2 separate regions of the Homo sapiens genome follow, and region 2 is linked to region 1. Evidence: fine-mapped expression QTL. A gene starts in region 1. The other region holds a variant in brackets. All regions are shown on one strand. Distances are from middle to middle.

What was found. PIP is the estimated chance that this variant, and not a neighbour inherited with it, causes the effect. A credible set is the group of variants that fine-mapping cannot tell apart.
Region 2: its variant is the best candidate, but not a certain one, in a credible set for the expression of REV1 in whole blood (Lepik 2017, PIP 0.52).

Annotation. Positions count from the first base shown.
Region 1 is chr2:99,487,486-99,492,860 of GRCh38, forward strand. It overlaps REV1 (REV1 DNA directed polymerase), which reads right to left and starts at 2,532. Exons shown (of 23, transcript NM_016316.4): 1 at 2,332-2,532. RefSeq lists silencers at 2,007-2,086, 2,157-2,256, 2,367-3,036 and an enhancer at 2,470-3,355.
Region 2 is chr2:99,326,014-99,331,388 of GRCh38, forward strand. TXNDC9 (thioredoxin domain containing 9) reads right to left here. Exons shown (of 5, transcript NM_005783.4): 3 at 1,522-1,640. Among named protein-coding and RNA genes, the nearest start is that of TXNDC9, 7.6 kb to the right of the region's middle. The variant C/T (reference allele first, on the strand shown) is at 2,772.

The sequences.
Region 1 (5,375 bases):
AAGTAGATGCTAACAGAAGAGCCTGCAACCTAATTGCCTCTAAAGAGCCTTTTTAATATCCCTTTTCCCGTCTCGTCTCCTGACTTGCCTTTGGAAAAAAATAAGATTATTTTTTAATGTCCATGTTAACGCTTCAGTTGGTGCTATTATAGTAAAAAAAAACTTTTCATTTTTAAATGTTCTGTTTAATATACTCTATGATTAGTAATACGCCACATATACACACCCATACATTCTTGAAAAGCAGAAAGACCCACAATGCTCTTTAGTGTAGGACTTGTTCATTTATTTGGAGACGAGAGGTACCTGTCACCTCTTCTGATTACCTTTCCTCTCACGCTTTGTCTCTAGCACATCCTGGCTCATTCTAGATTGTGAACTGCAATAAACAGGTATACCAAAGGGAATATGTATTTACTGAGCACCTCCTGAGTACCATGGTGTCACTAGATGTCTCACGTTTAAGAACTGATTTAATCCTCAGCTACCCAAGGTGGGAAATGGTATCTTCATTCTACAAACGAGAAAAAATCAGAGATACTAGTAACTTAACTTGTCCAGTCACCAGCTAACAATTTGTAGGGCCAGAAATCTAACCTCCATGTAACTGTGAACTTCCTGTCTTTCCACTACAGCAGCTATCAAAGAAAGTGCTTTCAAATATATATTATATGTAGTCACTGCAACTTCTTATGAATAATGACCAGTTTGTTGCTGGTGAGGACAACGTTTCCTTAATGCTCTTATGTAGAATCAGAGTTTTGAAGTTGCGAGTGGGAAGTTGGAAATGTAGTGATCTTATATATTCAAGCACATTATTTTTTAAAAATTATGTTCTACTTGAGACCTCATAGAAATTAATTTTAAAAGAGCAATTCCCATCTTTACAAAAAAAATTAAATATGTACGGTTTACCGTAAAATAGCGGTTAAGGTTCTACAACAAAAGATAGGAGTTTGGTACAGACTCTACCCTCAAAAGGTCCTACACAGTAAGAGAAGACAGGGCTAAAAAGATAAACGCAACACAGGAAAAGGCGCAAATAGCCTAAGAATTGAATGGAAGAGAGCCTTGTATACTGGAGAATGATTCCTGGAAGAGGAACTTTAGGTGAGCTCTTAAGTGTCCAGTACAGGAAGGCAGGGAACAATACGCAGCACTGGTCCCTGCACGGGCAAACCCAAGAATATGTGTGAAAGGTTGGTGGACAGATAGATGGTTCCCACAGGCTGATTTGCTACATACAGAACTCCATAGAAAGAACCAAGGTTATGGTTGGTCCTACCCTACCTAAACAGGAAATGGCTTATTCTCGGAGACTAAAGTGCCAAGTCCGGAAAGACCAGACAGATACACAGAATTACAGACTGTTACATAAAGTCCTTAATAGTTACAAGCCCTTGTTGTGCTATGTGCTAGTCTGCATTATTTTCACCTAAATGAAACCATTTCTACTTAGTACATGGCGTGAGAAGACGTGGAGATAAAGAGAATTAGCAGACGTATATTATCTGCAATTTATCTTACGGAGGAGTACATTAAGGAGTGTTATGTGAGATTATTTCTTTACAAACTGAGAATAGGTAGGAAGAGCAGCGAAACACAGCGCGGCTCGGTGCGCCCAGAGCGGCGTCACTGTAACAGTACAGAAGTGGGCAAGGGGCTCTCGGAAGGACAGTTGGGGAACGGCGCCCAGCGTATTTAGCGAACGGACAAGCAGCAAGGAAAAACAAGGGAGCAACAACCGCCTTCGGACATTCCGACCGGTTCTGGGATGCACCGGGGACGTCGAAGGCGGGGTGCGGAAAAACGCTGTGGCTGGAGTGCGGGTGGGAGCGGCGGCTCGACCGGGTCGACATTCTACAAACGCTTGTGGAACGAACGCCCGAACGCGCGCGTGAATGAATGGCGCGGAACTGAATGGCCGGCCGAGGCGCCGGCGCAGGAGGAAGGAGTTTGCGGCGCGGTCTGACCGGGCCGGCGGGATGCGGCCGGGCGCGGAGGGAAGGGCCGCTGCGCCAGGGGTCGGCGCGGGGCGGCCCATGGGGCTGGCGGCGGCGCGGGGCCGGCCGCGCCATGACGGAAGGGAAGGGGAGGGGAGGTCACACATTACATAACCCGGCGGCTGCGAGCGTCAGGGGAAGGCGCCGTGGACAGCCCAGGCCGCGACAGGACGGCCGCGGGCCGGGGCCGGGGCGACGCACCCCTCCCCCGCGCCACCTCAGGCCGACCGCGCTCTGGCCGCTGCCGGGCGGGTCTGCGGCGCCTCCGGGCGACGCGTGTCCGATCCCGCCCCTCCCCCACCCCGCCGCCGGCCCGGGGGTCGCTCACCTTCCGCGTTGCCCCAGACCACCATGCCCGGGCCCGGCGGCCTTCTCCGGCCTTGCGGACCCCGGCCCCGCCGCCGCCAGTGCCCTCGCCAGGGACCAGGGAGGAGGGCCGGGGGAAGGCAGCCCCACCGCTGAGCAGCGCCGCGGTCCACGCTCCCCCACGCTCGCGGCAACCAACCCCGCGCGCGCTCCGCGGTGGCTCTCCGCCCCTCCCCCTCCGGTTAGCGCGCGCGCCGCAGCCACGCCCCCTAGCGTTCCGCGCGCGCTCCCCGGCCCCGCTCGCGCTCACAGCCGCGCGGCGCACGCGCTCTGCTCCCCCCGGCCCGGGGCGACCCCAGCCTCGGGCGTAGCACCGCGGCGCCCGGCGTCGGCCTCCGTGTTCCTCCCCTCCCCGGCCCCGCCCTGTTGTTCTGCAGCCGCCCGCAAGGGGCAGCGCCTGGGCGGCACGTGACCGTCTCGCTAGCTGGGCGGAGGGGAGCGCAGCGCGGGCCCGCCCACGCACTGCGCCGCCTGCCCGCCCGTCCTGCTCCGGTCACCCCCGCGCTTCGTTGACCGGGTCGCGGCTCTTCGGTTGCCATTCGGACAGCGCGCCGCTCCGTGCACAGCGAGTCCCCGCGCCTGCCCCGCCTTGGGGCTCCCCAGTGGGGAAGGACACAAGTGCAGACACTGACCGGGCTTCAAACCCCGGTACTGTGTGAAGATGCGCCAGACGCCCGGGTTCCCTCCTTAAGCAATTGATTTACAGTGACATCTAGTGGAGAAAGGGACACACATGAACTGACATTTTCCTATGTCCAGAGCAACCGAGAACCACGGCCCACTCAGGTTCGCGGGAAGGAGCACTGCGCCACGGCGTTTTCGGGATTCGTGGCCTGCTCCCGCAGGGCACAGACACTATCTTCTGTCCTTTGAGTGCCCGGGCAGCATTGCGCCTGAGTATTTGTAAACGGAGGGCCGGTATCCCATCCCATGTACAGCGCTGGAGTTACCCGAGAAAGCAGTTTTCTATGAATATAAAAATAATATCCTATATTATGTATGCGTAAGTACAATTCTAATTGAGGGCCTTCTAGCAGAAAACAATCCGTCCATAAGGACCACTTTCTCCCTCTTGGCAGGGTCGCTTTGAAGACTCCACATTGTTACATAATAGTCTTTATTGTTGTAATGCACAAACATGAAGATACTTTTTTCCCACTCATTCCCTTGCCTAAAATGCTTCAGAGTTTGCAGGTACTTAGGAAACAATCAGTATTCTTTTGAAAACTGATTTGCAGAGTTGGAACTTGTTTACTAGCAACACAGAGAATACTCAAATAGCTCATTTCTTTCCCTTTCAGTTTTTTGCCATTTTATAGACTTCTATAAATGCACTTCAACTTCAGTATTCTCGTCGCTAATCCAACGAATTTAGATTGCATACTTTTCAAAGACGTCATAATTTAAAACAAATTGCGTAATTGCTTTCTTTTCTTTTCTTTTCTTTTGAGACGAAGTTTTGCTCTTTTGCCCAGGCTGGAGTGCAATGGCGCGATCTCGGCTCACTGCAACCTCCGCCTCCCAGGTTCAAGTGATTCTCCCACCTCAGCCTCCCGAGTAGCTGGGATTACAGGCATGCGCCACCATGCCCGGCTAATTTTTGTATTTTTAGTAGAGAGGGGGTTTCACCATGTTGGCCAGGCTGGTCTGGAAGTCCTGACCTCAGGTAATCCACCAGCCTTGGCATCCTAAAGTGCTAGGATTATAGGCGTGAGCCACCGTGCCTGCCCATAATTTTAACAGACTCACGACCAGTTGCCGACTGCAACACCAGGAGGTCATCTGCTGAGATGCTACAGAAAAACAGTGGTAACCCCTTGTTATGGGTGAGTTTTGTTTTGGTTGTTGTTCTTTTGCTTGTTTTAAATGTCTAAATGGCAGCATTCCTGCACGATTGTATTTCAATTTTCTTTTCCACTCTCGTATTCAAACCGAAGATCTTTTTTTTTCTTCTTTTTGTATTTTTCTCAAGGAAGAAACACAAACCTTGAGCCAACTGACCTTGGCAATACCTTTATAGAATACAGTAAAATGGTATTAACTGCAAACTAGTAGGCAGCCTCTGTAAAGGACGAAAAAAAATCACGTTGCTGTCTACATAAAATAGGATAAAAAGAGAGATGGGGAATACATAAATAAAAATGTATTTATGGACAAATTCTAGCATCCTTGTGACAGGGTCTTGCTCTGTTGTCCAGGCTGGAGTGCAGTGGCAAGATCATAGCTCAGTGTAACCTCAAACTCCTGGTCCCAAGCGAACCTCCCACCTAGGTGTTCCAAAGCACTAAGATTACAGGCATGAGCCACCTCACCCAGTCCAAAGTTTTATTTTTGTCCATTCCAGAATATTATGTTTTATGCCATCACATAATGAAGTCCTCTTGTTTCAATTTCATGCACCTACATTTATTCACCCACTTATCTATTTATATTTATTCTCATAGGATTATCTTTCTCATGTAAGGGGAGTCAGGCTGACCTTTGGGCCACTCTGGGGGTCTAGAGATGGCCGCGCTGGACCCCTACACTTGGGGGAGTGCTTTGGGGCACTGTACCTTATTTCCGTTTTCTGAACCTCATTAAAATTCATTTCATTACTGCTATCTCAAAAGGCCTATGAAAGTGCCAACCACTGACCTTTGGAGGGACAGCCATGGATAAGGACATGACTTCTGTCCTTTCACCTCTGTATCTGGCAGTAAACTTTCCTTGGAAACATTTACATCTAGTCTCTCAAATACCAAAAACAAACAGCATGAAACTACTAAAAACAGAGGTTTGTACTCAAGTCCCTTGGCTGATGTAGACACAATAACATGTGATTTACTCCATAGGAAAGAGTGTGCTGATTGTAATAAGGATTCAGTGCATTATGCTGAAAGATGAAATAATAAGGCAGAATGATCTCACACCCACAGAAACTTAGGAAATTGGCAGTGGAATTGGTTCACCAAGACTGAACTCTTTCAAACATACCATCATGTTTGACAATATGACTGAACTCTT
Region 2 (5,375 bases), 160 kb before region 1:
AACAAAAAAAAACAACAAAAAAAAAACAAGTGGACAAATAATATTTTACATACTAGTATATTTATATATCACCTCATCATATTTGTCAGAGGTTGGCAACTTGAGGAATGTGTGCCAATGCGAGATGGTTGTGTACCATAAGGGCAGAGGTTTCTCTGATACCTTTCTACCTGCCTAATCCCTTCTCTCACTGTTCCTCACAAGGGATTTCACCATCTCAATATTTTGTTTCATTTTTATTCTCTTAGTCAATGAATACCAGGCAATCAATTCTTGAAAGGTGTTAACTAACAATGAAGCTGTTGGGTTGTGAGATCAAGACAAAGGGGCAAGAAGGCCACAGAAATGAGAAAGAGAGCAGGGCTGAAACCACAGTGAGTGCCAGAGACTCTAGAGCACAGTGCTTGTCTGTCCTGGGTAGGCAGGTGCCAGTCAGCAGATGACTGCCATCATAGTTCCAGCTATGCTATTAGCAAGTTTTCTGATTTTTTAAAGAAAAATTCTAAGTGTGGATATTTTCAAAAGGAGTTATCTCTCGATTTTTAAGTGTTGGCAACTAATCAAATCTGTGCACAAAAAACCACAAAGGCTTGGGTCCTTTGGTTTACGATGTGACCTCTTCTGAGGAGGTATTAACATTTTATAAGAGATCTGCTTCCTTAGAGAAATTTGGAGACCTAGGGTGGTCTAAGAAAAATCACTTCTCCTTCTAGCCAAGACTGGCAGTCCCAACTCTGCTCTGGTGAAAGGTTTGGCCAAGCCACCATCTCCCCACCACAGTTGCTAGTTCCTTCAAGGAGGAACTGAAGGAACACTGACTCTCAACAGCTGTTGCCCGTTCCCAATATCATGGCTACATCACAATACTAGAGGGAAATAATTACTGTCATGGTGATAAGAATTTTAAGTGTACATTTCTAAGATGTTTTTAGTTAGCTAGTGAAAATACAATTCAAAAATATAAGCCATTTATATGGGAATATTGACTTTCAGTAATATTCATTTATACTTTTGCATGTAACTGTTCTTTAAGTTACTCTTTAAAATAACAATTAACTTTTTTTTTCTTTCTTTTTTGAGATGGAGTCTCACTCTATCGCTCGAGCTGAAGTGCAGTGTCGCGATCTCCGCTCACTGCAACCTCTGTCTCCTGGGTTCAAGCAATTCTCCCACCTCAGCCTCCCCAGTAGCTGAGACTACAGGTACCTGCCACCACACCCGGCTAATTTTGTAGTTTTAGTAGAGGCAGGGTTTCGCCATGTTGGCCAGGCTGGTCTTGAACTCCTGACCTCAAGTGATCCACCCCCCACTTGGCCTCCCAAAGTGCTGAGATTGCAGGCTTGAGTCACTGGGCCCCTGCCTGCTTAACTTAATACTAAATAACATATGAGAGAGTACAATGAAACAACTTAGGAAGTTTTTTCTTTTAGTTTTCTTCATTTCTCTAGTAAGCCAGTATATCTCCAGCCAAACAATTCACTGTGTTTTTTTAGAAAAAGTCACAGATGGAAACAAAGTTACCTGAATGTGGAGTCTCTGTAGAAATGGCAAACCACATTTTCACTCTCCTTGACTTCTTGAAAAAAGTCTCTTTCACTAGGGATTTCTCTGTATTCCCCATGTCCTTTAGAAAGCCATTCCTAATTTGGAGAGAGGCAAAACATTACACATGTGAGATATCTCTTTCAGAACCACTTGACATTTTAAGTGTCCAAATCACCATCGTATTTTGTAATGAAGTCAATTAAAAAAAAAAGTTTTTTTTTTGTTTGTTTTTGTTTTTTTTTTTTGAGACGGAGTCTTGCTCTGTCACCAGGCTGGAGGGCAGTGGCGCGATCTTGGCTCACTGCAACCTCCGCCTCCTGGGTTCAAGCAATTCTCCTGCTTCAGCCTCCCGAGTAGCTGGGACTACAGGCGGGCACCAGTATGTCCAGCTACTTTTTGTATTTTTAGCAGAGATGGGTTTTCACCATGTTGGCCAGGATGGTCTCGATCTCTTGACCTTGTGATCCGCCTGCCTCGGCTTCCCAAAGTGCTGGGATTATAGGTGTGAGCCACCGCGCCCGGCCCAAAAGTGTTATTTATTTATTTTTTTTTTGAGAATGGGTCTTGCTAAAGTTGCCCAGGATGGAGTGTGGTGGCATGATCATAGCTCACTGCAGCCTCAAACCTCCTGGGCTCAAGAGATCCTCCTACGTCAGTCTCCCAAGGAATTGGGACCACTGGCGCATGCCACACCACGCCTGGCATTTTTTTTTTTTTTTTTTGGTAGAGACGGGGTTTTTACTATATCGCCCAGGCTGGTGTCAAACTCCTCGGTTCAAGCAATCCTCCCACCTTGTCCTCCAAAAGTGCTGGGGTTATAGGCATGAGCCACTGTGCCTGGCTGAAGTCAAAGAAAAATGAATGTTTTTTAGCAATTTACTTTCCTGTTTCTACTGTCAATGCAAAACTAGTCTACGGACAGTGAACGTCTCCACAGCATGGCCTGGGTTCAAGACAATTACCTGTCTTTGTAGCTTAAAACATCTATTTTCTCAGAACTTTCAAAATAAAAATTTAGACTTGAGAGACTCAGAATGTAAATATCCACTTAACTCTATCCATGTACTCTTAAACTACTAAAACCAGAAGCATTTGATCCAAGTTACTACAAGTCTTTTAAAAATAATGCTCATGAGGCTGGGTGCAGTGGCTGATGCCTGTAATCCCAGCACCTTGGGAGGCTGAGGCGGCTGGATCACCTGAGGTCAGGAGTTCCAGACTAGCCT[C/T]GCCAACATGGTGAAACCCCGTCTCTACTTAAAAAAAAAAAAAAAATACAAGAAATTACCTAGCTGTGGTGGTAGGCGCCTGTAATCCCAGCTACTTGGGAGGCTGAGGCAGGAGAATTGCTTGAACCCAGGAGGCAGAGGTTGCAGTGAGCTGAGATCACGCCACTGCCTGGGCAACAGAGTGAGACTCTGTCTCAAAAATAAATAAAAATAAAAATAATGCTTATGAGATAAACCCAATTCGTCTTGGGGAGAAAAGGAGGATACTGCAGCTCTGAAGCTCAAGAGCCCTGTCTGCTTTTGATAACCACTTTATAAATGCTTAAAAAGTCTCTATACCTGCACTAATTGTTAGAAAGGTCATCTCACACTGAACTGCAATATATCCATAATTCTGGTCTGTGGATTCCAGCTTGGATAAAGATTAAAGTTTTAATCTCTTTCCCACGTGGGCCCTTCAAACATCACATATTGCCTAAGTTTTCCCTTCTCCACACTGAACACTTCCAGTTCCTTTTAACTGTTCTCATATGAAAAGATTTCTAGAGTTCCTACTCTTCCAGGATATCAACTAAACACACTCTAATTCACCAATGTCTTCTTAAAATGTGACAGAGGTCTGAATCCAGCCTCCAGAAGGGGTCCAACCAAAGAGCCAGGAGGGCCATCTCCCTTCCTCCTCTGGACGTCAGTGAACGTGGCCCAGACTATATTGATGACTGCGGTGTCAAAATCACATCCATTTACATCGAGCTGACACTTGCAGGATACCCTGATATTTTCTTATGTGAAATTTCTACACACAGTTTAACTCTCAAATACAATTCCCTAATGACATATGACATTTCATGACTGCTTTCACAACTTACCAATGATATGTGCCCTTAAAAAGTATTTGTTAGGCTGGACGCAGTGGCTCACACCTGTAATCTCAGCACTTTGGGAGGCTGAGGCAGGTGGATCACTTGAGGACAGGAGTTTGAGAACAGCCTGGGCAACACGGCGAAACCCTGTCTCTACAAAAAATATGAAAATTAGCCAGGTGTGTTGGCACACACCTGTAATCCCAGCTCCTCGGGGGCTGAGGCACAATAATTGCTTGAACTCCGAAGGCGGAGGTTGCAGTGAGCCAAGATCACACCACTGCACTCCAGCCTGGGTGACAGAGCAAGACCCTGTCTCAAAAAAAAAAGTATTTGTCTTTTAAAAAGCTGCTATTTCTAGGCCGGGCGCAGTGGCTCACGCCTGTAATACTAGCACTTTGGGAGGCTGAGGTGGGCGGATCACCTGAGGTCAGGAGTTCAAGACCAGCCTGGCCAACATGGCGAAACCCCACCTCTACTAAAAATACAAAAATTAGCCGGGCATGGTGGCAGGCGTCTGTAATCCCAGCTACTTGGGAGGCTGAGGCAGAAGAATTGCTTGATCCTGGGAGGTGGAGGTTGCAGTGAGCCGAGATTGTGCCACTGCACTCCAGCCGGGGCAACAGAGCAAGACTCTTATCTCAAAAAAAAAAAAAAAAAAAAAAAAAAAAAGCTGCTATTTCTTTTCATTATTTATTCTCAGGTATTTAACCAAGAGGCTGAAGACCCGAACCTGTCCTGGGCTCCTTTGAGGGAGGATGTGCCCATTCCAAACCTCTACCAATGCTCAGGGCCTCTCCTGACACATTCACTACACCCCTGTGCTCTTAGCATAGCCCCTTTTGGACAGCATGTGCTCCTAAGGTATCTGCAGAACAGAATCAAGCAGGATGGGCCTACCTGAGGCATGGCAGCTGGGCAGCACCTGGCTGTCAGTGGCTGTCACCCAAGCCTCTGCTTAACTCCTATTTCTTACCTTATCCCTCTATTCTGCTCCCTACCTAAGTGTGCCAGCTCTAGTTAACAGTAGGAGGGTGCTTGGCTGACAGAAGAATATAGATTCACCTAGGTCTATTAAGTGCCGACTGTAAGTCAATGCATACAATGATCTCCCCAATACCCTCGTGGATCAGAAAATCAAAATTACTGCATAATCTAATTACTGTATAATCTCTTATAAAAAGAATATCTATACAAATCACTAGGTTTCTTGACTATTTCCAGAAAATATTTTAATAAAAGACCTACTAAAATGCAGTGAAAGTTCTAAAATAAGACCCTCTGAATTACTCGATGACAAATTCATTTTAAATTGATTTATACATTAATAATAAAAAAGGCTTATAGCCAGTCTGCCTTAGTTGGTTTTAATTATATTCAGACCACTGTTTTGAACTGCCAAAAAGTTCCTTTAAGACATTATTTAACGTATGTTCATCACTGCAAATCAGGTGAATTCAGTCTCTCTACAAAAATATCCTAGTTACAAATAATTATTTTTAGTTGCACATTAGCAATTAGTACTTAAATGTGACTATGAAATATGAGTTTGTGGCAGAACCTAAACATATATTACCTTAAATTCCAATAATCCGTCCTTTGCATACTAATTATCAGCCCTATACTATGAAAAGAAGCCAATTGGGCCTGGTGTGGGGTGGCTCACACCTGTAATCCCAGCACTTTGGGAGGCTGAGGCAGGCGGATCATTTGAGGTCGGAATTTGAGACCAGCCTGACCA